7 linked regions of the Homo sapiens genome follow. The protein of the gene in region 2 purifies or fractionates together with the protein of the main gene of each other region. This does not show direct contact. Each region holds a gene or a part of one and is shown on either strand. Other genes may lie near its edges. The genes, in order: THOC7, NCBP3, METAP1, FAM120A, ODF2, ACIN1 and KRT6C.

Evidence for each region.
Region 1: the proteins of NCBP3 (region 2) and THOC7 purify together in Homo sapiens (co-immunoprecipitation; 3 studies listed by BioGRID and IntAct, with this or other methods). This does not show direct contact.
Region 3: the proteins of NCBP3 (region 2) and METAP1 purify together in Homo sapiens (pull-down; one large-scale study listed by IntAct). This does not show direct contact.
Region 4: the proteins of NCBP3 (region 2) and FAM120A purify together in Homo sapiens (co-immunoprecipitation; one large-scale study listed by IntAct). This does not show direct contact.
Region 5: the proteins of NCBP3 (region 2) and ODF2 purify together in Homo sapiens (co-immunoprecipitation; one large-scale study listed by IntAct). This does not show direct contact.
Region 6: the proteins of NCBP3 (region 2) and ACIN1 purify together in Homo sapiens (co-immunoprecipitation; 2 studies listed by IntAct, with this or other methods). This does not show direct contact.
Region 7: the proteins of NCBP3 (region 2) and KRT6C purify together in Homo sapiens (pull-down; one large-scale study listed by IntAct). This does not show direct contact.

What each region holds. Positions count from the first base shown.
Region 1 is NC_000003.12:63,853,806-63,857,305, forward strand, and holds part of THOC7 (THO complex subunit 7), read right to left. Parts: intron 1-3,500. UniProt on the Homo sapiens protein: Component of the THO subcomplex of the TREX complex which is thought to couple mRNA transcription, processing and nuclear export, and which specifically associates with spliced mRNA and not with unspliced pre-mRNA.
Region 2 is NC_000017.11:3,836,247-3,839,746, reverse strand, and holds part of NCBP3 (nuclear cap-binding protein subunit 3), read left to right. Parts: intron 1-3,500. UniProt on the Homo sapiens protein: Associates with NCBP1/CBP80 to form an alternative cap-binding complex (CBC) which plays a key role in mRNA export. NCBP3 serves as adapter protein linking the capped RNAs (m7GpppG-capped RNA) to NCBP1/CBP80.
Region 3 is NC_000004.12:99,044,221-99,047,720, forward strand, and holds part of METAP1 (methionine aminopeptidase 1), read left to right. Parts: intron 1-958; coding exon 959-1,090; intron 1,091-3,500. UniProt on the Homo sapiens protein: Cotranslationally removes the N-terminal methionine from nascent proteins. The N-terminal methionine is often cleaved when the second residue in the primary sequence is small and uncharged (Met-Ala-, Cys, Gly, Pro, Ser, Thr, or Val).
Region 4 is NC_000009.12:93,556,185-93,559,684, reverse strand, and holds part of FAM120A (constitutive coactivator of PPAR-gamma-like protein 1), read right to left. Parts: exon of another isoform or gene 3,327-3,500; intron 3,304-3,326; coding exon 3,094-3,303; intron 1,859-3,093; coding exon 1,675-1,858; intron 1,105-1,674; coding exon 967-1,104; intron 1-966. UniProt on the Homo sapiens protein: Component of the oxidative stress-induced survival signaling. May regulate the activation of SRC family protein kinases. May act as a scaffolding protein enabling SRC family protein kinases to phosphorylate and activate PI3-kinase.
Region 5 is NC_000009.12:128,466,006-128,469,505, reverse strand, and holds part of ODF2 (outer dense fiber protein 2), read right to left. Parts: intron 582-3,500; exon of another isoform or gene 324-581; coding exon 153-323; intron 1-152. UniProt on the Homo sapiens protein: Seems to be a major component of sperm tail outer dense fibers (ODF).
Region 6 is NC_000014.9:23,085,137-23,088,636, reverse strand, and holds part of ACIN1 (apoptotic chromatin condensation inducer in the nucleus), read left to right. Parts: intron 1-3,500.
Region 7 is NC_000012.12:52,471,006-52,475,242, forward strand, and holds the start of KRT6C (keratin, type II cytoskeletal 6C), read right to left. Parts: upstream 2,801-4,237; 5' UTR 2,733-2,800; coding exon 2,193-2,732; intron 1,276-2,192; coding exon 1,061-1,275; intron 728-1,060; coding exon 667-727; intron 512-666; coding exon 416-511; intron 292-415; coding exon 127-291; intron 1-126.

The sequences.
Region 1 (3,500 bases), on a different chromosome or scaffold from region 2:
GCTGAGGCAGGAGAATGGCGTGAACCCGGGAGGTGGAGCTTGCAGTGAGCCAAGGTCGCGCCACTGCACTCCAGGCTGGGTGACAAAGCGAGACTCCGTCTCAAAAAAAAAAAAAAAAAATTTAATCCACAACTTGTATCATCCTATAAAAGTCAGAGTAAATGTTGAAGATTTATCTATAGATATATCTATGTAGATACATATTAGGCATTTATGCATATCAAGTTTTGCCCAGTTAGGATTCCTTACAAATTTGCTTCTGTCTCAAATTTACTGGGAAGGTCATGGCGTTTCTAGCTGAAATTGTGCACAGAGAGTTGCTGCCTAGAAAACTCTGTGGACAAGAATTATTGAAATAACATGTATAAAGTACAGAGCACAGCTCCAACAGAAACAGAATAAAACAAAAAGGTAAGCTCTCAGTTTGAGAATAGCCTCTGTTCTTTTTAAATTTAAAGATGGACTGCTGCTGATAGTTCCTAACACAAATGCCATGAGCATTATTATTTTTAATGACATCTTATCAATTAGCTCCATAATGAACACACTTAAAATATGTTTTGTTTACTATACATGTTGACTTCACAAATTATCATGCTTGAAACCCTCTGTAAGCAGTTTGAATGCTTATATTAGTAATTCTGCTGGGCTTTGGTCTATCCTGTAAAAACAGTAAAGATGGCTTAGCAGATTTTTTGTTATTTTTTTTATGTTATCAACATCACTCCTTGTCATAATTACTTTCTTTACTATGAGGATGAACATCATCTGGAAAGAGTTTCTAAACCAAAATACTTGACACCTGCTGTGAGGATGGTGGTTTTCCACCTGGCTTTAGGCTTGTAGGACAATGGCTGGATAATACCATCCATCTAGCTCCTGGAAAGACTGTGGAGTGTGAATCTGAGTCAAGAAAAGGAGGGCCGGGCGCGGTGGCTCACGCCTGTAATCCCAGCACTTTGTGAGGCCGAGGCGGGCGGATCACGAGGTCAGGAGATCGAGACCATCCCGGCTAAAACGCTGAAACCCCGTCTCTACTAAAAATACAAAAAATTAGCCGGGCGTAGTGGCGGGCGCCTGTAGTCCCAGCTACTTGGGAGGCTGAGGCAGGAGAATGGCGTGAACCCGGGAGGCGGAGCTTGCAGTGAGCCGAGATCCCGCCACTGCACTCCAGCCTGGGCGACAGAGCGAGACTCCGTCTCAAAAAAAAAAAAAAGAAAGAAAAGGAGGCAGCAATTAACTTCACGTATTAATTAGTGAGTAATATGACCACACATTGTCTAGAGTATACTGTCTATGAGGCAGGGGCATGAGATACATATTTGCTCATCAAAATGCCTCATATCCAATATGCCTAAATGTTAACCACTGAAAACATAAAAAAACAGGATTGGTTTAACAGTAGACTATTATCACAATTCTAGAACTTATGACTTCCTACTGGATTTCGTTATACCATAATTGCACATACAAAATATCTTTCAAAATCAGTTTAAAATCAGTAATGACACATTTATGCTGAAATGTAAATATTTACTTGCAAAATGGGATACATATATGCCAACATATAGCCAGAAGAAATATAAAATTATTCAAGACACCAAATAAGCCTCAAAAAGTCCTTAGATCTTAAAACTCTATGTTTCATAAACATAGAGGCAGGAAGAAATGACTCCTTTACAGTTACTAGAGCAACTCTAGATTTCTAGGCCTCTGGTCAGATGACACAGCCATTTTAGCTGTGCTCTCATTTTAGCATAAAAGGGAGTTTCTCATAAACCCAGACTAACGTTTTCAAAATTCATAATTGTTCTTTCCCTATATTTGCCATTAAAACCTTGATTACAAAACAACTTCAGAGACAGGTCAAGGCTTGACAACCAGAGGCAATAGCATCATTGTTATGTAACTCCTTGCTAAGGCTAAATTGCAGGTCAAATGTGGTTCCCTTTGAGGGAAGGCTGCAATCTCACCTGCCTTTGTGAACTAGTAATCCTGTGATCTACCAGTGAGGATTAGCATTTCCTTTCTAAATGCAGTTTGGCAAAAAATTTGGTAGGTACCAAACTGAAAGCCACAGGAAGGGATAACAATTTCAGACAGGATTATAGTGGGGAAAACAGCTAGCTACTAAGGCATTACAGCAAGATATACCAAAATTAAAGACACATATACCTTTTGACTTATCTTTTAGAAATTATTCCCACAAGTACGCGAATATATCTATGCAAATATCTCCATTGTAACACTGTTTGGAAGAGTAAAAAACTGAAAACAAACTAAATGCCAATAGAGGATCTGTCTAAAAAATTAATAGACTATACACACTGATATAAAAGAATAAGGTAGATTTATATTCAAAAGAGCTCCATGATAAGCTAAAAATTGAAACAACTGAACTCATGGAGGTAGAAAATAGAGATGGTTACGAGAGGCTGGGAAGAGCTGTGGGGTGTGTGGTGGCAGGGGAGGGGCGGGGATGCTTAATTAGTACAAAAACATAGAGTGAATAGGATCTAGTATTTGATAGCACAATAGGATGATTATAGTCAACAATAATTTATTGCACATTTTATACCAACTAAAAGAGCATAACTAGAATGTTTATAACAAATGATAAATGCTTGAAGACAATGGATATCCTATCTACCCTGCTGTGATTATTTTGCATTGTATGCATGTATCAAAATATCTCATGTACCCCATAAATATACGCACCTACTATATCACTTAAAAAAAATTTTATGGGTACACAGAAGTTGAATACAGACCAGTGTGTAAATGACTGTATAAAATTTTCAAGCATATATACCCACTGGTATACTAGCCAGCAGATACGTAACACTTAAATATGCTAAGGACTGCTTTAGATGCTTTTCACATATAAACACACTTAATCTACACAACAGCATTATAGATTTTTTTTTTTTTTAGACAGAGTCTTGCACTGTTGCCCAGGCTGGAGTGCGTGGCGCTATCTCGGCTCACTGCAAGCTCCGCCTCCCAGGTTCATGCCACTCTACTGCCTCAGCCTCCCAAGTAGCTGGGACTACAGGCGCCCGCTACCACGCCCAGCTAATTCTTTTGTATTTTTAGTAGAGACGGGGTTTCACCGTGTTAGCCAGGATGGTCTTGAACGCCTGACCTCGTGACCTACCCGCCTCGGCCTCCCCAAGTGCTGGGATTACAGGCGTGAGCCACCTTGCCCGGCCTCATTATAGATATTCTTATCCCTATTTTACCAATGAAAAAGCATCTTGCCAAAAATTAAATGTCACAGGAAGTAAGGAATAGAAATGGAACTCAAACTCAGGAGTCAGGCTCCAGAGAAGATACTTTTACCTTTTAGAGGCATTAAAAATCATTCTGGGAGAGGAATTATTACGGAAGGTAAAGAGGGGAAGGTTTTCATTTTTCATATTGTGCATTTCTTCTTGAATTTACTGACATGTAGTACTTTTTTTATGAAGTAGTAACAGTGGTTAACTGGGTGGTAAACT
Region 2 (3,500 bases):
AAGTGTATCACAGTGAGACCTTCTTTTCGGGGAGTTAGAGCAATTTTGAGATTGGTGGGGAAAAGCCATTAACACTTTTGTTGATAATCTGAATCTATTGGCCAGGTGTGGTGGCTCATGCCTGTAATCCCAGCACTTTGGGAGGCCAAGGCAGGTGGATCACTTGAGGTCAGGAGTTTGAGACCAACCTGGCCAACATGGTGAAACCCCATCTCTACTAAAACTACAAAAATCAGCTGGGAGTGATGGCTGGCGCCTGTAATCTCAGCTACTCGGGAGGCTGAGGCGTGAGAATCGCTTGAACCTGGGAGGCAGAGGTTGCCGTGATCCGAGATTGCACCACTGCACTCCAGCCTGGGCGACAGAGCGAGACTCTGTCTTAAAAAAAAAAATTCTGAATCTATTGATAATCTGAATATCTGATATATGTAAACCACTCAGTAACATCCTGTTGTCAGAGAAAGCTAAACTAATCCTGCCCTGAGTTTTAAGCCTGCGCTTACAGTTGGACTTGTGATTTGATTTGATCTTTGTGTTTTTTTGGGGTATTTTGCTCCCTAGAACTCACCCCGAATTATTGTATATAGTAATCTGCCGCAGTTTTCTAAAGCAATTTATAAATAAAAGGAAAAATTACTACTTTTTTAGTGAGTCTATGTTCTTATTTATTATTCTACTATAATATAAATCCATGAATGCAGAAGGCTTCCCTCTGTGTTATTTGCAAATTTGGGTGTTCATAAAGGGTTTAGTAGGCAGCCTTCTGAATGCATGTTAAAGGCCTGTGCTGTATTGTATGAGCTTCTCTAGCCTTGTTTGGTTGATAAAAGCAAAAGCTCTGTAAATATATTGAATGAATGAAAGAATAGCTGCTATTTGTTGTGAACTTGCTTTTTTACTAGACTCGTTAAGCACATTATATATTTCTTTCTTTTTTGTTGCTCACAACAACTGTATGAGGAATTTATTTTTATCCCTATTTTATAAAGAGGAAGCAGGCTCAAAGAAGTTTAATAAATTGCCCAGGGTCATGTAGCTAGTAAAGGTGGAGTCAGGATTCACACCCAGTTTCTTTGACTCTAGAGCCTTGCCCTTAACTCCTTTGCTCTGTTGCTGTGTAATGTAGGATGTGGTGCTATCGACTGATATTGCGTCCCTCCTCAGTCAGTCCTAATGGGCCCAGCAGTGTGGATGCAGAGCTGAACTCTGGAAGCTGCTTCACTCTTTATCCTGCATGACCAGTTCAAGTCAGAAACACGCCCTTGCTTCCCTCATGGGCGGGGTTTCTGTTTGAGGAGAAGTCCTGTGAAGGCCAGGTGTGGCTTGACCTTCATGTGCCTGCACAGCCGGGCGCAAGCATACCTGTGAGTCTCTCTCACAACTCTACCGCGAGGGCGTCATAGCTTTATCACACCTGTCGACCTCTGGTCCCGAGAGCATTCCTTGAGGCGGCTTGCCTCTGATACGGCTCATGCCTTTCATTCTGTGCATTTGCCCTTCCTTGTCCCATGCTTTATCTCTGGTCAGGTGTCACTTCCCCCGTGGAGCATCTCTGCTCACCCACTTGAAGTGTTTTCTCACATCTGTTGGAGCTCTTTAGGGCGCAAAAGCCTCGTAGAATCTAGTCTCAGTTCCTTTGTGACTGAGGACAAGTTCTTGAGCCTTGTTAGTTTCAGTCTCCTTGTCTGTAAAATGGAAATATGATACTTACCTTAATAGGATCACTTTTGGGGTTAACTTTTAATTTAAAAAAATTTTTTTTTTTAACGTACAACTCCAGTCTCACGGTTCTAAAGATATTCCTAAAAAAGGCAGTAAGGTCGGCCGTGGGATGTCAGCTGGGGAAGCTTGCTTATTTCAGTCGATTCTTTGTCCAGGAGGCAGCATGGCCTAGGATAGTGTTCCTGAGCCCTGGGGAACCCTGCTGCCCATCTCAGACCACTTTATATTAGTTGGAGTTGGATAGGTCCCAGGGATAGTTACTGGTTTTCTTTTCTTTTTTTTTTTTTTTTTGAGACAGAGGCTTGCTCTGTCACCCAGGCTGGAGTGCAGTGGCGCAATCTCGGCTCACTGCAACCTCCACTTCCTGGGTTCAAGCGATTCTCCTGCCCCAGCCTCCCGAGTAGCTGGGACTACAGGTGCATGCCACCACACCCAGCTAATTTTTTGTATTTTTTAGTAGAGACAGGGTTTCAAGCTCCTGACCTCCTGACCTCGTGATCCACCCACCTTGGCCACTGCCCAGCATTTTTTTTTTCCTCTCTTTCTGTAGCCCAGGCTGGAGTGCAGTGGCGCGATCTCGGCTCACTGCAACCTCTGCCGCCCGGGTTCAAGCGATTCTCCTGCTTCAGCCTCCTGAGTAGCTAGGATTACAGGCACCTGCCACCGTGCCCAGCTAATTTTTGTAGTTTTAGTAGAGATGGGGTTTCACCATCTTGGCCAGGCTGGTCTTGAACTCCTGACCTTGTGATCCACCCGCCTCGGCCTCCCAAAGTGCTGGGATTACAGGTGTGAGCCACTGCGCCCGGCTGATAGTTATTCTTTTTATATCTTCTCAGGTAATTTTTATTTATTTATTTTTATTTTTTATTTTTTTTTTGAGAAGGAGTCTTGCTCTGTCACCCAGGCTGGAGTGCAGTGGCACGATCTCAGCTGACTGCAACCTCTGCCTCCCAGATTCAAGTGATTCCCCTGCCTCAGCCTCCCGAGTAGCTGGGACTACAGACGCACACCACCATGCCCAACTAATTTTTTGTATTTAATAGAGACGAGTTTTCACCATGTTGACCAGGGTGGTCTCGATCTCCTGACCTTGTGATCCACCCGCCTCGGCCTCCCAAAGCGCTGGCGTTGTAGGTGTGAGCCATTGCGCCAGGCCATCTTTTCAGGTACTTTTAATGTGCAGACAGGATTGAGGACCATTGGTTTCATGGTTATGAGCATGAGCTCTGAAGCCTAGTTACCTGGATTCAAATCTTAATCTGTTACTTTCTAGCTCTATGGCCTCGGGCAAGTTATTTAGCCTCTAAAAATCTCAGTTTCCTTATCTGGAAAGGCAGATGACAGGAATTCTTTTTTTTTTTTTTTTTTTTGAGAGACGGAGTCTCACTCTGTTGCCTAGGCTGGAGTGCAGTGGCGCAATCTTGGCTCACTATAACCTCCGCCTCCTGGGTTCAAATGATTCTCCTGCCTCAGCTTCCTGAGTAGCTGGGATTACAGGCACCTGCCACCACGGCCAGCCAATTTTTATATTTTTAGTAGAGACGGGGTTTCACCATGTTAGCCAGGCTGGTCTTGAACTCCTGACCTTGTGATCCACCCGCCTCAGCCTCCCAAAGTGCTGGGATTACAGGCGTGAGCCACTGCGCCCGGCCAATGACAGGAATTCTTATAGGGCTGCTGGGAGACTCTAACAAAATGTTACAGTCCATAGAGTGGCGCTTGGCACATGGCAGGTGCCCAGTTAATGTGGCTTATTATCATCATCTGGTATTCTCCAT
Region 3 (3,500 bases), on a different chromosome or scaffold from region 2:
CCTGGCTTAGATGGCATTTTAATATTGATGGAATTAGACTCTTTGTTAATAAGATATCTTAAAGGAACTACCTATCAAATGAGGAAGCATGAGCCCAAGTGTTAGAGGCTGCAGATAATTGACTGATTGTGATGCTAGCTGTGAATGATAGCCGAAATTTAACTATGACACTATTTTTATTAGAATTGCTACTGCTTTAGTTAGGGTATCTGTTCATAAAGTTCCATAGGTTTTGAGGCCAACCCTGTTTTTCAAATATAAAGCCTGTTATTTTTATTATATGTAGAATGTGTGAGGTTTTTCAGGAATGTATGTGTTGTGCTAGAACCAAAATATCTATATTGTGATGTTACAGGTTGATTGAAATATGTGGTTTAAAAATACTCAATGTGCTCTCTAGATACATTATAATGGTATAATAGTATATAATATATAGTATAATAGTAATCTATATTCTTAAACATGGGGACAAAGAGAAGAATGAATATTCACAAATAAGAGAAAAGCAAATGAGTTTTAAAAAAACAGGTGTAGAGCAGTGTAAATTTTTCTGTTATTCCCTAGCAGGAGTAAGGAACTTGTAAAAGATAAGTGAAAATGGTATTTTGTAGCAATGTAGCAAAGTTTTCAATTTAATGTTACTAACTCTGGTAATTTATTTTGCATGATTGTGTCCCACATACATTTTTCTTTTGCCACAAGTGATACAATTACTATAAGAGTATAAAAACCCACTATCTGGCTTATGTTACATGGCCATATTCCTGCTCTCCACAGTGAGTTCAGTTACATCTCAGGGAGCTTCTGTTGGGCAATAACTATCTATCCATTGGTGTCTAATTTGAGAATGCAGAAGTTGTCTTTTTCATTAAGTTGCTAGATGCTGTCATGTTGGAAAAACACTTGAATTTTGAAATGAAAATAAGTATGGTCTTTATATTTGCACATTCTCTTGCAGTGGATATCACTCTTTATCGCAATGGTTATCATGGGGACCTGAATGAGACATTTTTTGTTGGAGAAGTGGATGATGGAGCACGGAAACTTGTTCAGACCACATATGAGTGCCTGATGCAAGCCATTGATGCAGGTCAGCCTCAGTGTTGAGCACCTATTGGCAGTCCTGTGTGTTGATGGGCCAAGAATGACTGGGCGCTGCAGTTCTGTGCATTCCTTGTACCTTCCAGGTTGCCCCTGTTCTACCTGAGTTAGCTTTGGTTGTTAGCAGTAATGGGTAAAAGGATGATCTGGGAATCTCTTGGTGGTGATAGACCAGATGATTGGTTAGCATCCTTTGTTTCTTCTGTGATTTATCTTCCTTTTCTTTGCCTGATAAATGAAGAGGACTGTGCAGATGGTTTTTTAGTGCAACTTTTATTCTATTTTTAAAATTCTTTCCAGTACATAAATATTATGTTCTCCTCATAAAAAATTAAAAGTGAAGATTATGAGTGAAAAATGTGTGATCCTCCTTTACACTTGCCTCCCCTCTTATCTCTCTCTTCTCTCTAGAGATATCCCATTACCGTTTAGGTTTTTTCTCTCTCCTGTGCATTAATGCACACACGTATGTGTATGTGTTAAATTAAGTTAAATGGAATCATAATATTTTTAATGTGTAACTGGGCTGTTTTTTCAACTATCATAGAGATCTTTTCAAGTTAGCATATATACCTACAGACATAGATTTACCTCATTCTTTTAATGGCTATGTATTATATTCTATAGTATTACAATTTGTGTAACTATTCTGTTGGATTTTGGTGCTTTCCAGATTTCTTACTATTGTAGTAATGGGTAGGGGTGTATTTCTGGAGGATTTTTCTCAGGCTGTCTGTCTTTGTACATATGAACAACTTATCGAGGCTTTTTTGTTTAATCAGTATCTTATGGGGATAAGAGAAGGAAAGGGGCTGGGCATGGTGGCTCACTCCTGTAATCCCAGCACCTTGGGAGGCTGAGGTTGGCAGATCACTTGAGGTCAAGAGTTCGAGACCAGCCCGGCCAACATGGTGAAACCCTGTCTCTAATAAAAATACAAAAATTAGCCAGGTGTGGTGGCGGGCGCCTGTAATCCCAGCTACTCGGGAGGCTGAGGCAGGAGAGTTGCTGGAACCTGGGAAGTGGATTGTGCCACCGCATTCCAGCTTGGGCAACAGAGCGAGACTCCATTTCAAAAAAAGAAGAAAAGAAAAAAAAGAAAGGAAAGTTCTTAACAGCATCTTGTTGGAGTTGTTAACAAACTGTTAATAAATGGGCAAACAGCCTTCTGGTTAAATCCTTACCATATCAACTTTATTACCAGTGTGCTACCTGCAATCCTCCCCAGTCTCTCCAAATCTTGATGTCATCAACAGAATAGTGAACAGGACAGAGTTCTTAGACAAACATACAGTTATCTCTAATAATGTTGATCCAGTATTTTTATTGTTTTTAGTGCGTTCTTTAATGTGTATGGGAGATGAAATTTTTACTCAAGTTGGAGGAATGGAAATGAAGGAATATGATATTTTTGTGTATCAGGTGAAATTTTGAAAACTTATTACTCATTGTTGATTATTTTAAAACATTAATACAGGAGGTGGAATTGAAGAAATTTAATGTTTAATTTGTCATTTGTGAAAGCTTAAGTTTGAAATAATTTTTAGAGTTTCTGCCAGATAATATAGTCAATATTTCTATTCTTTTTGCTTCTCTGTGAATCAACTGAAGAAACAAAAAAAAAAAAAAAAAAAAAAGAAAAAGAAAAAACCAGATAGTTAGAATGCTGTTTTATATGACGTATGACTGGAACTTGCCAATAGTTTTCATAACAGTAGCCAGGAAGGAACGAAAGTGGCTTGATCTTTTTTGGAAAGTGCTTTGAATTCCTTTGTATATATCATTTTTGCCCCTCATTTTGCACCTCCCTTACTCCCCCAGGTAGAGGGTTTGAAAAGCTGTTGAAATTAGGCTTCTTAAGTAGGGTTTCTTAGTCTATGCACTTAGTGGCTTTTGGGCCTGATAATTTTTTGTTGTAGAGACCTGTTCTATACACATAAGATGTTCCACAAGCATTCCTGGTCTCTACCCAGTAAATGCCAGTTACACCACCACCCTGTGTTTGACAACCAGAAATATTAATATCTCTAGATACTACCCTTGGGGCCGCAGTTGGAGCAGTTTGAAAATTAGGGAAGACTTCCTCTGTCACTCTTTCTATGCAACATGGATTACAATATTGTTCCCCCTCCCACCCCAGGCTGATAGGAAGGCCTGGATAGGAATGAAAGAAAGTAATTATGAAAGTCAGCATGATTTTTCAAAACCAGAAACCTCCTTCCTTCTCCCCCCAAAATCAAGCTGCAAAATACAGTTAAGAGCAAGTAAAAATGTTAATTAAACTGATTCCTTGAGCTATTTACCCTGAAATGGATGGGAAAGATACATTGTATCTGAACCTCAGTCTGGGAATCAGATAGGCTGAGTAGGAGAGTAGAGAGAGTTAAGGATCCCCAGAG
Region 4 (3,500 bases), on a different chromosome or scaffold from region 2:
GAGAGGAAACATGGCTGCGAGCTGCATGAGGAGCAGTCACAGAGCAGAGTAGCACACTGCAGGAGGCTGGTGGGCAGACAGAGGAGGCAGAGAGGCATGCAGCTGCACCAGGGAAAGGAGAGGTGACCTGCAGACAGAGGGGCTGACCCGTCGCCAAATCTGCAAGTCACCTTTCCGCACAGTTCCCTTGCTGGCCTCCCTAACTATCCCATGTAACTGAGTTGGAAAAACATTGTTGATCAAGAGAGAAAGGCTTGCCCATCCTCAATGCAACTCCAAAATCACATCTGAACAGTTAATCCTGTTATGTGACTTGATGGGCAGATTTAGATCTGCAGTCCCAAAATGTGGGATTAGGACAAAGATACAGGTCACTGACTTCCAATTACAGCACCATCACAAGACATTGCTTCCTATGCTAAATGTTAAGACCCTTTTCTCTTTTGCAAGCCTAATACAAATGCAAAGAGAAGCACTGGGAATCTACAGTAAACTGCCTTGTTTATATGCCCAACATTAGATCTTTGTTTAAAAATGTTTCTGCGAAACAAACTGTGACAGACTTTTTATGTCAGGAATTCTGTGACCATTAGCATTTTCTATACAAGCATGATAATCTTTACCAAAAGATGGCTGCTTGGGAAAGAAACGCCACTATTAGCAGCTCATCCTATGAACACGAGGCGATGGTCAGGTTACCCAGGTGCACAGAAAGGTTCTGTTCTAGGTGGACACTCAGTGGTCTACCCTGAAAGGAGAGACTGGCCACAGCAGAGCCGCTGCTGAGACCTGAGAGCAGAGAGTCTCAGGAGGAGTGGTCAATGAGGGTCAGAGCGGGGACCCAGAAGAAAGGCCGTTCTGCTGGAGGAGGGGCTCATGAGGACAGTAGAGGAAGGAAGGCGCCAGACGATGGAGCGAAGGAAGTGCTGGCAGGCAGAAGCTCTGGGAAGGGGTGGGTATAATTACCGCCCTGGGACTTGCTAGTCCTGCTGCTGTCACTGCCTGAGAAGGCTCCGCAGTGTCCCGATGCTGCCGCCACACGGAAGGCACGGTAAGGGCCTGTTGCTACCGTTTCCCCATAGGGGCCTCCAAAGCCACAGACGCCTGTGGGACCCGGGGTAGAGAGAGAGGGGAGAAGTGTAAGGGACAGGACTCAGGGCCCTGCTGGGTATTCAGGCAGAGTGGCCCCTGCCTCCTCCAGCTGCCATGGAGGGGTCTCCTGGCCCCTCTTGTCACCTCACTGTCCTGTGCCCATGGTCCCTGGGGACCAGTATTGTAAGGCCACCCTCCCTGCAGTGGGTCATTCAACAGGGCACTAGCATGGGGCTCAGGAAGGGCCCTGGGAGATGAGTCCTGGAAGATGGCTCTCTCTGACCTGGGTGGGTTTATTTTCCCTTACACATGAGAAACAAATATATCTTAAAATGTGAGCAGAGTTTTCAGCTTGATTGACAGATTTTACGGTGCAGCTTTTGCATCTGCATCAGCAGGTCCCTCTCCCCTATCTCCAGGATTAAACTTGCTCCTCACGGACTTGAAGAACTGCTGCTGCAGGATCTCCAAGACCAACAGTGACAAGGTCAACACAGCAGATGGGCTTGCCTATAAGGGCTGCACTTTCTTTACAGGAATCTGGCATCTGTTACCCACAGGAATACGTCCCAATCAACTCACCTGCAAAGCCTCTGCCCCTGCCCTGAGAGGGTGGGACAGGCCCAAAGTGCCGGGGGTACGCAGAGGCAGGGTAGAAGGGCAGGGCAGGTGGCGGCGGGAAAGGGAGCGTGTGGCTCTGCCTGGAGAAGCTGAGCCCCTCGAGGACGCTCTGGCGCATCTTCTCTACCTTGGCAGCCTGATCAGCCTGGAAGACAAGGACCAGCATGTGAAAATGCCATCCACAGGGGGTTTTAATTGAATTTAAATGAGCACTAAAGAAATAAGATCTATCAACTATACAGTTGGTTCCCTTTATTCATGAATTCTATGTCTGCAAATTCTCCTACTTGCTAACGTTTATTTGTAACCACAAAAATCAATACTTATGGCAGTTTTCTGGTCGTCTGCAGACTTGTGCAGAACACGGCAAAGATTTTTGTTGCCTGATGCACTGACCCCAGCTGAGGTCAAACAAGACAACGCTTGCCTTCTTGTTTCAGCTCATACTGAAAACAAGAATCCTTTTCACAGTTTATTAAGTGCCACGTGTTTCACATTTTTGTCCTTTTTTGTTGGTAATTTCACTGTTTAAAATGGTCCCTGGCTGGGTGCAACAGCTCACGCCTGTAATCCCAGCACTTTGGGAGGCCAAGGTGGGTGGATTGCTTGAGGTCAGGAGTTCAAGACCAGCCTGACCAACATAGCAAAACACCGTCTCTACTAAAAATACAAAAATTAGCTGGGCATGGTGGCAGGCACCTGTAATTCCAGCTACTAGGGAGGCTAAAGCAGGAGAATCACTTGAACCTGGGAGGTGGAGGTTACAGTGAGCTGAGACCGCACCACTGCACTCCAGCCTGGGCGACAAGAGCGAAACTCCATCTCAAAAAAAAAAAAAAAAAAACCAAAACAAACAAACAAATAAAATGGTCTCCAAGTGTAGTGCTGAAGTGCTGTCTGGTGTTCCTAAATGCATAAGGAGGCTGTGATGTGCCTTACAGAGAATATACGTGTTACAGAAGCTACTGGCTGTGAGTTCAATAATAATGAATCAACAATCCATATTATATAAGGTGTCTTTAACGAAAATGCACATGAAATAAGATTATATACTGATTGGTTAACAAAAATATGTGACCAGAGCCTTGAAGGAACCCAGCACCTTGTATTGCCCCTAGGAGCAATGGTCAGTATTCACTAATTTGGCGTTCAAGGTGAATTTTAGAACATTACTACCACAAATAATGAGAAACAATGTTATATCAGGAGCTTGGCTCATCCTGGGTACTGAAGTGATATTTAGTGACACTCAGTACCAGGCCCAACCTAAAACAGAATCTTGAAACACAGGATGATAAATATGGTATAAAAGATGACAGATTTAACCAGTGAGCTTTATTTCATTGCAGTTAAAGGCAGCCACCCGGCCCCGCAGCATACCTGACCATCACAGAGGTCAATGAGTGGGGTCTTTTCCCGGCTGGCTTTGAGGAGTTTGGATTGGAAGAGCTTCCCATCAAAATACATCCAAGGACAACAGTGTTCCCAGGGGATTGGCTGTCCGCATGCATCATTTGCAAACAAGGCCATGTCTACTCCACTCATGAAGAGAGCTGATAGCTGAATTCCTCGGGGATCTAGGTTCTCAATCTTTAAATTGAAAAGAGTAATTTCTATGGAATAAGAGTACTACAGTATTAAATTCTTTCAAAGTCTTAGTAAAACTCTCCAAAGTTAACAGAATATTCCTCAACAAAACAGCACCACTAAGTAGTCCTACCATTACCTTATATTGACCTAACACTGGCCTCATTTGAACAGAAATACTTATGTGATTTAACACATTT
Region 5 (3,500 bases), on a different chromosome or scaffold from region 2:
CCTCCCGGGGCAGGCAACTGAAGCCCGGGGCAACCCTGCAGAGGAGGCCTGAAGGCCTGCAGACGCAGGCTGAGGGACCAGGCAGGAAATCCACCTGGGTGCTCCTGCACATCCTCAGGGTAGTAGCTATCCCAGCCCCCTACCTCCCTCACCTCAGACTTCAGACAACCAACCGCATTCATTAGACTATCAATCTTCTTATCATAACGGTTCATTTTACAGTGACCTGAGTCATCATCTTCTGTAGAGAGGTCACTTAACCGCATCACTGAGACCAGCTTTTCTGAAGATGGTGGCGTGATCTCCAGGCAATGAGGTGGATTCTGATGTAGAGGAGGGAGAAACACATGAACTCAGAAGGCAGAACCTTGACCACGAGTTCCACCACTGGAGGCTTATTTACTGATTAGACGGGAAAAGCTGTAACAGCTAACTCGGGGACCCCAGGAAGAACATACTCTGAACCCTTGTGATGGAACATTACCTATCCATGTTTAAATGATGGTTTTGGAGAATTCCCAACATCAAAATTAAAAGCTTGGGCTACAATGTTAAGTTTAAAATAAAGAACATAGGCTGGATACCCTGTAAAACCAGTATATTGGGAGGCCGAGGCGGGAAGCCAAAACCAGCCTCAGCAACATAGCGAGACCTTGTCTCTATAAAAGTAAAAGAATTAGCTAGCGCTGGGCATGGTGGCTCACATCTGCAATCCCAGCGCTTTGGGAGGCTGAGGCGGGTGGATGACCAGAGGTCAGGAGTTTGAGACCAGCCTGACCAACACGGTGAAACCCCGTCTCTACTAAAAACACAAACTTAGCTGGACATGGTGGTGCATGCCTGTAATCTCAGCTATTCAGGAGGCTAAGGCTGGAGGATCGCTTGAACCCGGGAGGTAGAGGTTGCAGTGAGCCAAGATTGCGCCATTGCACTCCAGCCTGGGCAACAGAACGAAACTCCTTCTAAAAAAAAAAATCAGGTGGGTGTAGTGGCACATGCCTGTGATCTCAACTAATCAGGAGGCTGAGGCAGGGGATTCCTTGAGTCCAGGAGTTCAAGGCTGCAGTGAGCTATGATAGCACCACTGCATGCCAGCCTGGGTGACAGAGCGAAACCCTGTCTCTAAAAATAACAATACTCATAAAGAAATAATATAACAAATCAGCAAAAACATTAATAATACCCAAAGTTGGCAAAAGTTTAGGGCAGTACATTTTTTTATACCTAGGGTAGAAATGAAATATGTCAAAAGTCTTTTAAATGAATATGAATAGCTGATAGTGGATTAGTTACAAAGGTAGATGAATCTGCTGAAAAGGTATTGTAGAAACAAGTGGGTAAATTGGAAAAAGGACCAGATATTGTATGATATTAAGAAATGCTCTTAGGAGTAATCAGTTATTTTGATGATGTAGAAAAATATTATAAATGCACATGGTACAATACCTGGAAAGTATTGTATTAAAAAAATACAATACTTTTTAAATACGTCAGTATAAAAAATATTTTAGGGCCAGGAGCGGTGGCTCATGCCTGTAATCCCAGCACTTTGGGAGGCCAAGGCGGGCGGATCACGAGGTCAGGAGATCGAGACACTGAAACCCCGTGTCTACTAAAAATACAAAAAAATTAGCCGGGCGTGGTAGCAGGTGCCTGTAGTCTCAGCTTTTTAAATATTTTTTTAAATATTTTAAAATGCATATATGCTTCAGGAAACTTTATGCAAAGCTGTAAACACTTTGCTTTTTTTTTTTTTTTTTTGAGACAGGGTCTCACTCCATCGCCTAGGCTGGAGTGCAGTAGTGCCATCTCGGCTCACTGCAACCTCCGCCTCCCAGGTTCAAGCAATTCTCCTGCCTCAGCCTCCCGACTAGCTGGGATAACAGGCACCTACCACCATGCCCAGCTGATTTTTGTATTTTTAGTAGAGGTGGGGTTTCACCATGTTGGCCAGGCTGGTCTCGAACTCCTGACCTCAGGTGATAAGCCCGTCTTGGCCTCCCAAAGTGCTGGGATTTCAGGTATGAGCCACCACATCCAGGTATGTATATTACTTTTAGAAGAAAAGAAGTTACTTTTAATACTTAAAATGACAAAAATAGGAAAATGTATAAACAGTCATGTGCCACGTAACATTTCAGTCAGCAATGGACTGCATATATGACAGTGGTCCCAAAACACCGTATTTTTACCGTACCTTTTCTATATTTACTATGTTTCAATATGCAAATACTTACCATTGTGTTAGTTGCCTACAGTATTCTGTACGGCATCATGCTGTAGAGGTCTGTAGCCTAGGAGCAATAGGCTATACCATACAGCCCAGGTGTGTAGCAGGCTTTACCAATCTCGGTTTGTGTAAGTACACTCCATGATGTTTGCACAATGATGAAAGTGCCTAACAACATGTTTCTCAGAATATATCCCCATTGTTAATTGATATATGACTATATATATATATATATATATATATATATATATATATATATATTTTTTTTTTTTTTTTTTTTTTTTTTTTTTTTTTTAATTGAGATGGAGTCTCGCTCTGTCACCCAGGCTGGAGTGCAGTGGTGCAATCTCGGCTCACTGCAAGCTCCGCCTCCCAGGTTCACGCCATTCTCCTGCCTCAGCCTCCCGAGTAGCTGAGACTACAGGTGCCCGCCACCATGCCCGGCTAATTTTTTGTACTTTTAGTAGAGACGGAGTTTCACTGTGTTAGCCAGGATGGTCTCGATCTCCTGACCTTGTGATCCGCCCGCCTCGGCCTCCCAAAGTGTTGGGATTACAGGCGTGAGCCACCACGCCCGGCCACATGACTATATATTTTTTAAAATGACAAATATATATATATATATATATATGGGAAAGTGTGACTACTTACTCCTTGTGATGGGGAGGGAGTGACATAGACAAAAGCCAGGGGCAGCTTCTAGGATGCTGGGTGATCGTTACACAGGTACCTTCAGCTTGTGAAAATTCATGGAGCAATACACTTCTGATGGGTGTACATCCCTGCACTTTTCCATTTTTTTTTTTTTTGAGATGGGGTCTCACTCTGTCAAGCAGCCTGGAGTGCAGTAGCACAACTTTGGTTCACTGCAACCTCTGCCTCCCAGGCTCAACCCATCCTTACACCTCAGCCTCCCAAGTAGCTGGGACCACAAGTGCACACCACCACACTGGGCTAATTTTTTGTATTTTTGGTAGAGATACGGTTTCGTCACATTGTCCAAGCTGGTCTCCAACTCCTGAGCTCAGGTGAACCGCCTGCCTTAGCCTCCCAAAGTGCTGGGATTACAGGCGTGAGACACCAGGCCCGGCCAGTCCTCTTTTCGTTTTTCTTTTCCGTTTTTTTTGTTTTTTTTTTGAGATGGAGACTCGCTTTGTTGCCCAGGCTGCAGTGCAGGGGCGCGATCTTGGCTCCCTGCAACCTCCGCCTCATGGGCTTAAGCAATTCTCTTGCCTCAGCCTTCTGTGTAGCTGATATTGGTGGCGCGACC
Region 6 (3,500 bases), on a different chromosome or scaffold from region 2:
CACCATAATCAGTGTTTTTAGGATGTATGGAGGTTTCCAGCTCTTCTGATTAATACAGAATTCCTTCATGGACTACACTTGATTTTAGTTAAAAGGCTGAGCAGCGATAGACTCTTCATGGAAATAGATTTTTTAGGAGACATTTAATGGTGGGAAAGAAATTTTCCAAAAGGCTAGAGAAAATAGAGAGCCTTTGAGTCTAGTTTTAAGGTCCTGTTTTACTCAGTCCCTGTTTTTCTTGATCCTAGTCTTAGACCCAGAAAGACATTTCTAGAAATCTTTTAGTAAGAAAATACTGGCCAATACTTTGGAATTATTAAGTTCCTTAGGGACCTCTTTTCTCCTGAAATACGAGAGTAGTAGACCCTCAGCTGATCCACTTTGCTCCCTGCGCCCTTTCCCCCTTGATTTTAAAGCCGAGAGGAAAGAGAAAGCTCTTCTAAAATTGTCGGTATTTCTTCTCACATAAAACAAAAAAAAATTTATTGAATTCCTACTGCATACATATCTCTGTGAGAGTATATTGGGAGTTAGCACAGCATAAAGTCTGTTAGGAAGAGAGAACAATTACACATAAATCGAACAACAGAAGATAGTATGTGACAATGATACAGACATAGGGAACCAAAAGAGTGGAAGAGCTCTGAGGACTACAGTGATTAGAGAAAGCCTCATAAGGAGATACAGGATTTGAGCTGAGCCTTAGAAATGGTTTGGCAGAGAGGATACAAGAAGATATTTTTAGGAAGGAACAAAGTCAGAGAGATAGGAATGAAAATGGTATTTTTAAAGGAGAGGTAGTAGACTAATCTAGCCAGAGTAGAGTATTTCACATTCAAGAATAGTCAGCAAAACAATTTAAAAGGTAGATGAGGGTGATACACAGAGGGCTTTAAATGCCAGGCCAGTAAGTATGAGGGTTTTTTTTTTAGTTCTATAGGTAATGGGGGAACCATTGAAAATTCTTAATAGGACCATGATTTGATAAGGACCTCTCTTTAAAAAGAGAGGCTGTCAGTTCTTAATATAATTCGAAATGAAAATGAGAAATGATTTCTGAAATAGATTTCAAAAGCAAAGATTTAGAGTAAGGGTAGCCAATCTTTTCAGTGCTTTATGTCATCAGTAAGACCCTGCCCATGGCTAATGATTGATGGAGGAAAAAAAAAACCCCAGACGTTAAAAAAAAAAAAAGGTGAAAAATAAATTGGAAAATATGAATGTGGTAAATTGTAGAGTACTGCTCATAATTGCCGTAAATGCTCTTCAGTGTCCTTTATGCCATAAACTTTTCTACCTCTGATCTTGGCTTAGATAAGAATCCCATTATAGATGTTGTACAAAATTTAGTTAAGGTCCTGAATGGAGTGGCCATTTGGAATTCTATCAGTGCTTAGTTGAATCAGCATTAACCCTAGTGTTTGTCCAGAAATCAGATTCTTCCAGGTATAGAATCTCAGTCTGCCATATGCCAGTATGCCATTGCAATGGCAGCTTATTTGTTGGCTTTGAATGTTTTGGGGTTCTCTCTTGAATAACAATTTTTGATTAAGTTTCCTACTAACATTTTTCTAAACGCTACTGGCACCTGAGGGAGATTTTTTATTTGTTTTAATATTACTATGTTTAAGAATATGGATTCCTGGCCCCTACCCAAAGAATCTCAAGGAATGGGAGTCCTGGGGCTCTACATTTTTTAAAAAGTCCCTGAGTGGTTCTGTTGACCAATTCATTTTATGAATGACTAACTGAAGGAAGAGTTTTTCAGTGTTATAATTTATCAAGATCTTTGGTTTATATTCCAGCATCCTCCTGTTTATATGCTATTGGCAAAATTCCAAATAGGAAGGAAGAATTGGTTTGTCCAGGTGTGGTGTCTCACACCTGTAATCCTAGCACTATGGGAGGCTGAGGTGGGAGGATCTCCCAGGAGATTGGCCTGAGCAACATAGTGAGTCCTATCTGTACAAAAAAATAGAAAACATTAGCTGACTGTGATGGCACATGCCTGTAGTCCCAGCTACTCGGGAGGCTGAGGTGGGAAGATTGCTTGGGCCCTAGCAGTCAAGGTGGCAGACAACAGAGTGAAACCATGTCTCAAAGAAATAATTGGTTTATAAAATCCTGTCTGACTTTCCCTCTTATGTCTCCATCACTTTCTTCAGATATTTCTAAGGTGTTAGGACTCATTATCCACCTACCATAGTCATAAATTGTCTGAATTTCCTTCTATATCATGACTGTGTGTACAGAAATTCTTACCGTCCTTAATTTTTTCAAAAAGAGCTCAAACTAAGAAAATACATTTTTAAATGCATATTCAGAATATTGATTCTTTAACAAAGGTGATTTTAGCCAGCCTTTGGCTTATAGAGTATGCCCCTCATTCCGTTTTCTCCATATTAAAACCTGGATGCGGAAATTCTAGAGAAATGCTAGGTAACTTACTTACAGGTCTAACATGAGTCAGATTTAGGTTTGGCATTGTTTCCAGGTCTGTATTCTCTTCATTCCTGCTTCTTATTCACACCTAAGGTTACCTTTTAGCCACAGGCTTTTCTTCGATCTCTGGCTTCCTTACTTTGGTCCCACAAATCCTACCCAGGAATTTGTTTTCTAGGATGAAGAACTATTTCCTCTATAACCCTTAAACATTCTGCACTTTAATATATCCTGCATTGTCTAGCAACTGCCTTTTCCTTTCTGTGAAGCCTTCTGGCTTTGGACTCTTGGAAATCTAATATTTACCCTGACTTGTTTTTCGAATCCTGAAATGTATTTATTAGCCTGTTATCAGTATCAGCTCCACCCTTAGCTAAAGCGCTCACTGTCTACACGTGTTACTAACATCTGGCCTAAGACATTCATTGTGGCCATGTTCTTATAATAGAAGATATCACCTTTTTCAGAAGTTTGTCTGCATCACATCAGCTCTTTCCAAGGAACTAGAGATTCCTCATCTCTTTATATTTTGCATTGCTGACTAATTTCTTGTTTCATGTCTGAGGCGCCTCCAGTTTCTGCTTTTATTGCAAAACAGTGATGACCAGAACTTTCTGAACAGCCCTGTTCATTTCTCCAGATCTCTTTGATGACTTACTACAAGTTCTTCCAGAGGAGTAATCATCCAGAAATCCTATCACTGCAGTTTTACAGTATCAAAAATAACATTATAATTCAATAAATAGCATATAATTCACAGTAGGTAGATAAAGAGGCTGTTTTGCTTGTACATACTAATTTTAAAATTGCAACTCAGTTATTTGACTTTGTTGTTGTTGTTCTTGTTGTTGTTGTTTTTTGAGATGGAGTCTCGCTCTGTCGCCCAGGCTGGAGTGCAGTGGCGCGATCTCTGCTCACTGCAAGCTCTGCCTTCCAGGTTCACGCCGTTCTCCTGCCTCAGCATCCCAAGTAGCTGGGACTGCAGGCACCCGCCCCCACACCCGACTAATTTTTTTTTTTGTATTTTTAGTAGAGACGGGGTTTCACCATGGTCTTAA
Region 7 (4,237 bases), on a different chromosome or scaffold from region 2:
CAGAGTGCATGTCCTGTGAGAGGACCCCAGCTTCCTGTCAGGGGATGTCCCCAGTGAAGTCTGCAGTCCTCTGGTATTCCAGGATGGACACAAGGATTCCTCAGCAGCTGCCCACTCCCTGCTCACCTTGGTCTGGTACCAGGACTCAGCCTCAGCCCGGCTCCTCTGAGCAATCTCCTCGTATTGGGCCTTGACCTCAGCGATGATGCTGTCCAGGTCCAGGTTGCGGTTGTTGTCCATGGATAGCACCACGGATGTGTCTGAGATGTGGGTCTGCATCTGGGACAGCTCCTGCAGAACAGAAGGTCATAAGATCAACTTCACATCTGACATTTACAGAGATACCCAACCCTATACATCTTCTCCCCTTTGCAGACCCCATCAGAGTAAACAGAAGGATGGTGGAGATGCTTACTGCATCATACAAGGCTCTCAGGAAGTTGATCTCATCTGTGAGAGTGTCTGCCTTGGCTTGCAGTTCAACCTTGTTCATGTAGGCAGCATCCACATCCTGGGGAAAGAGCCAACAACCTGGAGTTACCTGAGCTCACCTTTCCAATCTACCCATCTTCTAGTCCTCCTGCCAATTCTCTCCCAGGGGAGCGAGGACACAGAGCCACTTCTCTCCTTCTAAATGAATTTGAACCCCCGGCTTCATCTGCTCACCTTCTTCAGAGTCACAAATTCATTCTCTGCTGCTGTGCGCTTGTTGATTTCATCCTCATATCTACAGGAAGAAAGGCATAGGACACATATGAGCCAGTGGGTAGGATGAAACAGAAAAGCAGCTTGGGATTCAACAATTTCCTGAATGGAATATATTCTAATTGAGCTTTCCTGCCACAGAGAGCCAAAGAGATGAGTTTTGCTACTACTAAATTTGCCACTTCTTTAATCCCCCCATCCTCCCATAACCATCTGTGGTTCTTGCAGGTTTGCTCCTAGGGACTAATTTGTGCTTTTCATTTCCATGGACATGGGTTGTTAGGAATCCTACACACATCTGGCCCTGGTCACCCAATAGTCTTGAAGTGTGTGCTGCAGGAAATGGAGTCCTCACTTGTTCTTGAGGTCCTCCACCAGGTCCTGCATGTTTCTCAGCTCCGAGTCCAGGCGGCCCCGTTCCCCGACGATGCTGTCCAGCTGCCTCCTGAGGTTGTTGATGTACTGCTCGAACAACGGCTCCAGGTTCTGCCTCACAGTCTTGGTGCCCTGCTCCTGCAGCAGGGTCCACTTGGTGTCCAGAACCTTGTTCTGCTGCTCTAGGAACCGCACCTGGAAGGGAAGCAAGATGGTCATTTTCCAGGCAAAGGAAGGAAGAAAAAGTGTCTGGTATCCAGTTTCCTGGCAGGTCTTGGAGGTCCCCATGGTGCTGGGCTACTACAGTGCATGTGGAGAGGCTCAGGCTGAGCTCTGCTCCCCCAACCCCTTCTCCTTTGCACCCCACCAGTCTCACTAGAGAAATTGTCCCATGGACCATTGAGGTGTTCTCACGCTGTAAGCTATTGATCATCAGTGAGTTTCAACATTTCTTCTCTTCTTTTTCCAGGCACAATCACAAATCTAGTTTAAAAATACTAATTACCTGATATATTGTACACAGTTTTTTTACTGATAGGATCTTAGTTAGGAGAGATATTATATGTTGACTCATGATTACATTTCAGTCTACTTTCCCATTTAGTGTCTCCTCTCAAATATTCTGATGTTATGGTCATTCTCTGTTTTTAAAATTAATTAGCATTTATCCATGTTTTACAGTTGTTTCTATGTCCCTTTTTTTCTTAATCCAGCCAGATTATCTTTTCCTTTTCTTTCTAAATCTTTTTCCTCTTACCCAGACCCCAGAGTGTAATTTACCAGCCCATATACTCCTGGCATTTGCTTTGTAATCTCTTAAACACTTCAGAGGGGAGAATTAACCTACTCCACTCTCTGATGGCCTCATCTGTGCTTCAGGGTTATGAAAAGTTACGGCTCTCCCTAGGCAGGAGTGAGGGCCACTCCAGAGATCCCATGGGGGAGTGATGCCCATCTGTGCTGCCTCCTGTGCACCGAGAGCCACCTGCACTCTCTGCAGAGCTGGGCTGAATCCCCTTCTCCCTCCCTCCTAGGTCTCCCTAGCAGGAAGGTGTTGCTCTTCTGGTCTGGGGACCCTGAAGTGCCCGATGGAGGGCATGGCACTGGCTCACCTTGTCGATGAAGGAGGCAAACTTGTTGTTGAGGGTCTTGATCTGCTCACGCTCCTCGGCCCGCACCCGCTGGATGGCGGGGTCAATTTGCAGGTTGAGGGGAGTCAGGAGACTCTGGTTGACGGTGACCTCTTGGATGCCTCCAGGGGGGCACACAGGGAAGCCAGGGCCCCCAAAGCCACCAGCAAGGCCGGCTCCACCACCCAGACCAAAGCCAATGCCGGCTCCACCACCGAAACCAAATCCACTCCCGGCGCCACCAAAGCCATAGCTGCCTCCGGCTCTGCTGCCATAGCCGCCACTGATGGCACAGCTGCCCCCTCCAATGGAGATCCTCTTGGAGCCCCCCAGGCCATACAGACTGCGGCTGCCAAAGCCAGCTCCTCCACATGCACCACCCAGGCCACCACTGCCCCTGGAGCGGGACACGGAGATGCTGCTGAAGCCAGAGCGGCTGACCCCAGGGAGCCTGGCTGAGTTGGCACTGAAACCCCGGCGGCTGCTGCTGTGGCTCCTGATGGTGGTGGATGTGCTGGCCATGGTTCCAGGAGATGAGAGGGCTGTGGCGAGCGTTGGAGGCTGGAGGCGAGAGGCAGGAGAAGCAGGACAAGGAATCGGGCTCCAGCAGTAGCTTATATATTATGAGAGAGCATGGGCTGGGCCCAGTCCTGGAAGGTGAGCTTGCAGGTTGGGAAGGGCTGGGCTTTACAAATAGTGAGATCACACCTGGATCAGAAAAGTTATGAAATGCTGAGATGGCATTTTTCACTTCCTTTAGTCAGGGAAAATGTTCCTGCCTCCAGCTTTGACTCGAGATTTCAGCACAGTAAGAGCATTCTCAGTTCATGAAGTTGAAGTTAGTCACTGTCTTCAGCAAAGGTTCTGCATGCTAGGCTGTTTATCAACATGCTGTGAGTGCTTTCCTCTTTCCAGCCTGACTTTCTTCCAGCAGAGATGTTGGAGATCACAAGCACTGTATTGCAAATGCCTTAACAGAAATATTAACATTTTTCCTGTAATTATTTTTCCTTCTGTGTGCAATTTCAAACATGTAGAGGAGCAGAACACAATGGGCCTGTATATACCTATTACCTGTTTCCATGATGATTACCTTATGGCCAGTCTTATTTCTTGTATATTTCCACCCGGTTCCCTTATCAATGTTAAATTTTTTTAAATCCCAAAAATATTTGGGATTTAATTCAATATTAATTCAATATTAATCTTTAAATGATAGACCTTTTAGAAATATAACTGAAATATTATTTTGTATTTTAAAAATGTATGTATTTATTAAGTCTTCGCCCTCAAGGAGTTGACTCTAATAAAGATGACAACACAAAAGGAGATAGAAGACATCACATCCAGTGGCATCACTGAGCTAGAAAGAAAGTAATGCTTTACTAGGAAGAAAAGAGCATAGAGAGGGGGTGTAGAGGGGACAGTGGGGAAGGGTAATTTTTTTTCTTTTTTTTTTGAGATAGAGTCTCTCTCTGTCACCCAGGCTGGAGTCCAGTGGTGCGATCTAGGTTCACTGCAACCTCCGCCTCCCAGGTTCAAGAGATTCTCTCACCTCAGCCTCCTGAGTAGTTTGAGATTACAGGTGGCCACCATCAAGCACGGCTAATTTTTTGTATTTTTAGTAGAGATGGTGTTTCGCCATGTTGGCCAGGCTGGTCTCGAACTCCTGACCTCAGGTGATCCACCTGGCTCAGCCTCCAAAAGTGCTGGGATTACAGGCATGAGCCACTGCTCCCAGCCAATTTGTGTATTTATTAACATCAATGTGTCTATTCAATTCTCCAATGTCCTTTTTCATTTATTTCCTTATTGTTTACAATTCTTTTGTTGATAAGACCAGGTTAATTGTCCTGAGTAGTGTTTCAGTCTTTGGGATTTCCTCATTGCTTACTCACAGTGTTTCATTTAAGATGCTACTGTGTCCTCTATATTTCCTGCAAACTGATCATTAAAACTTGAAGCTTAATAAGACTCTCATATACTTAGACTTTCCAGATGTGGATGTAGTAGAATGCCTATTTAAA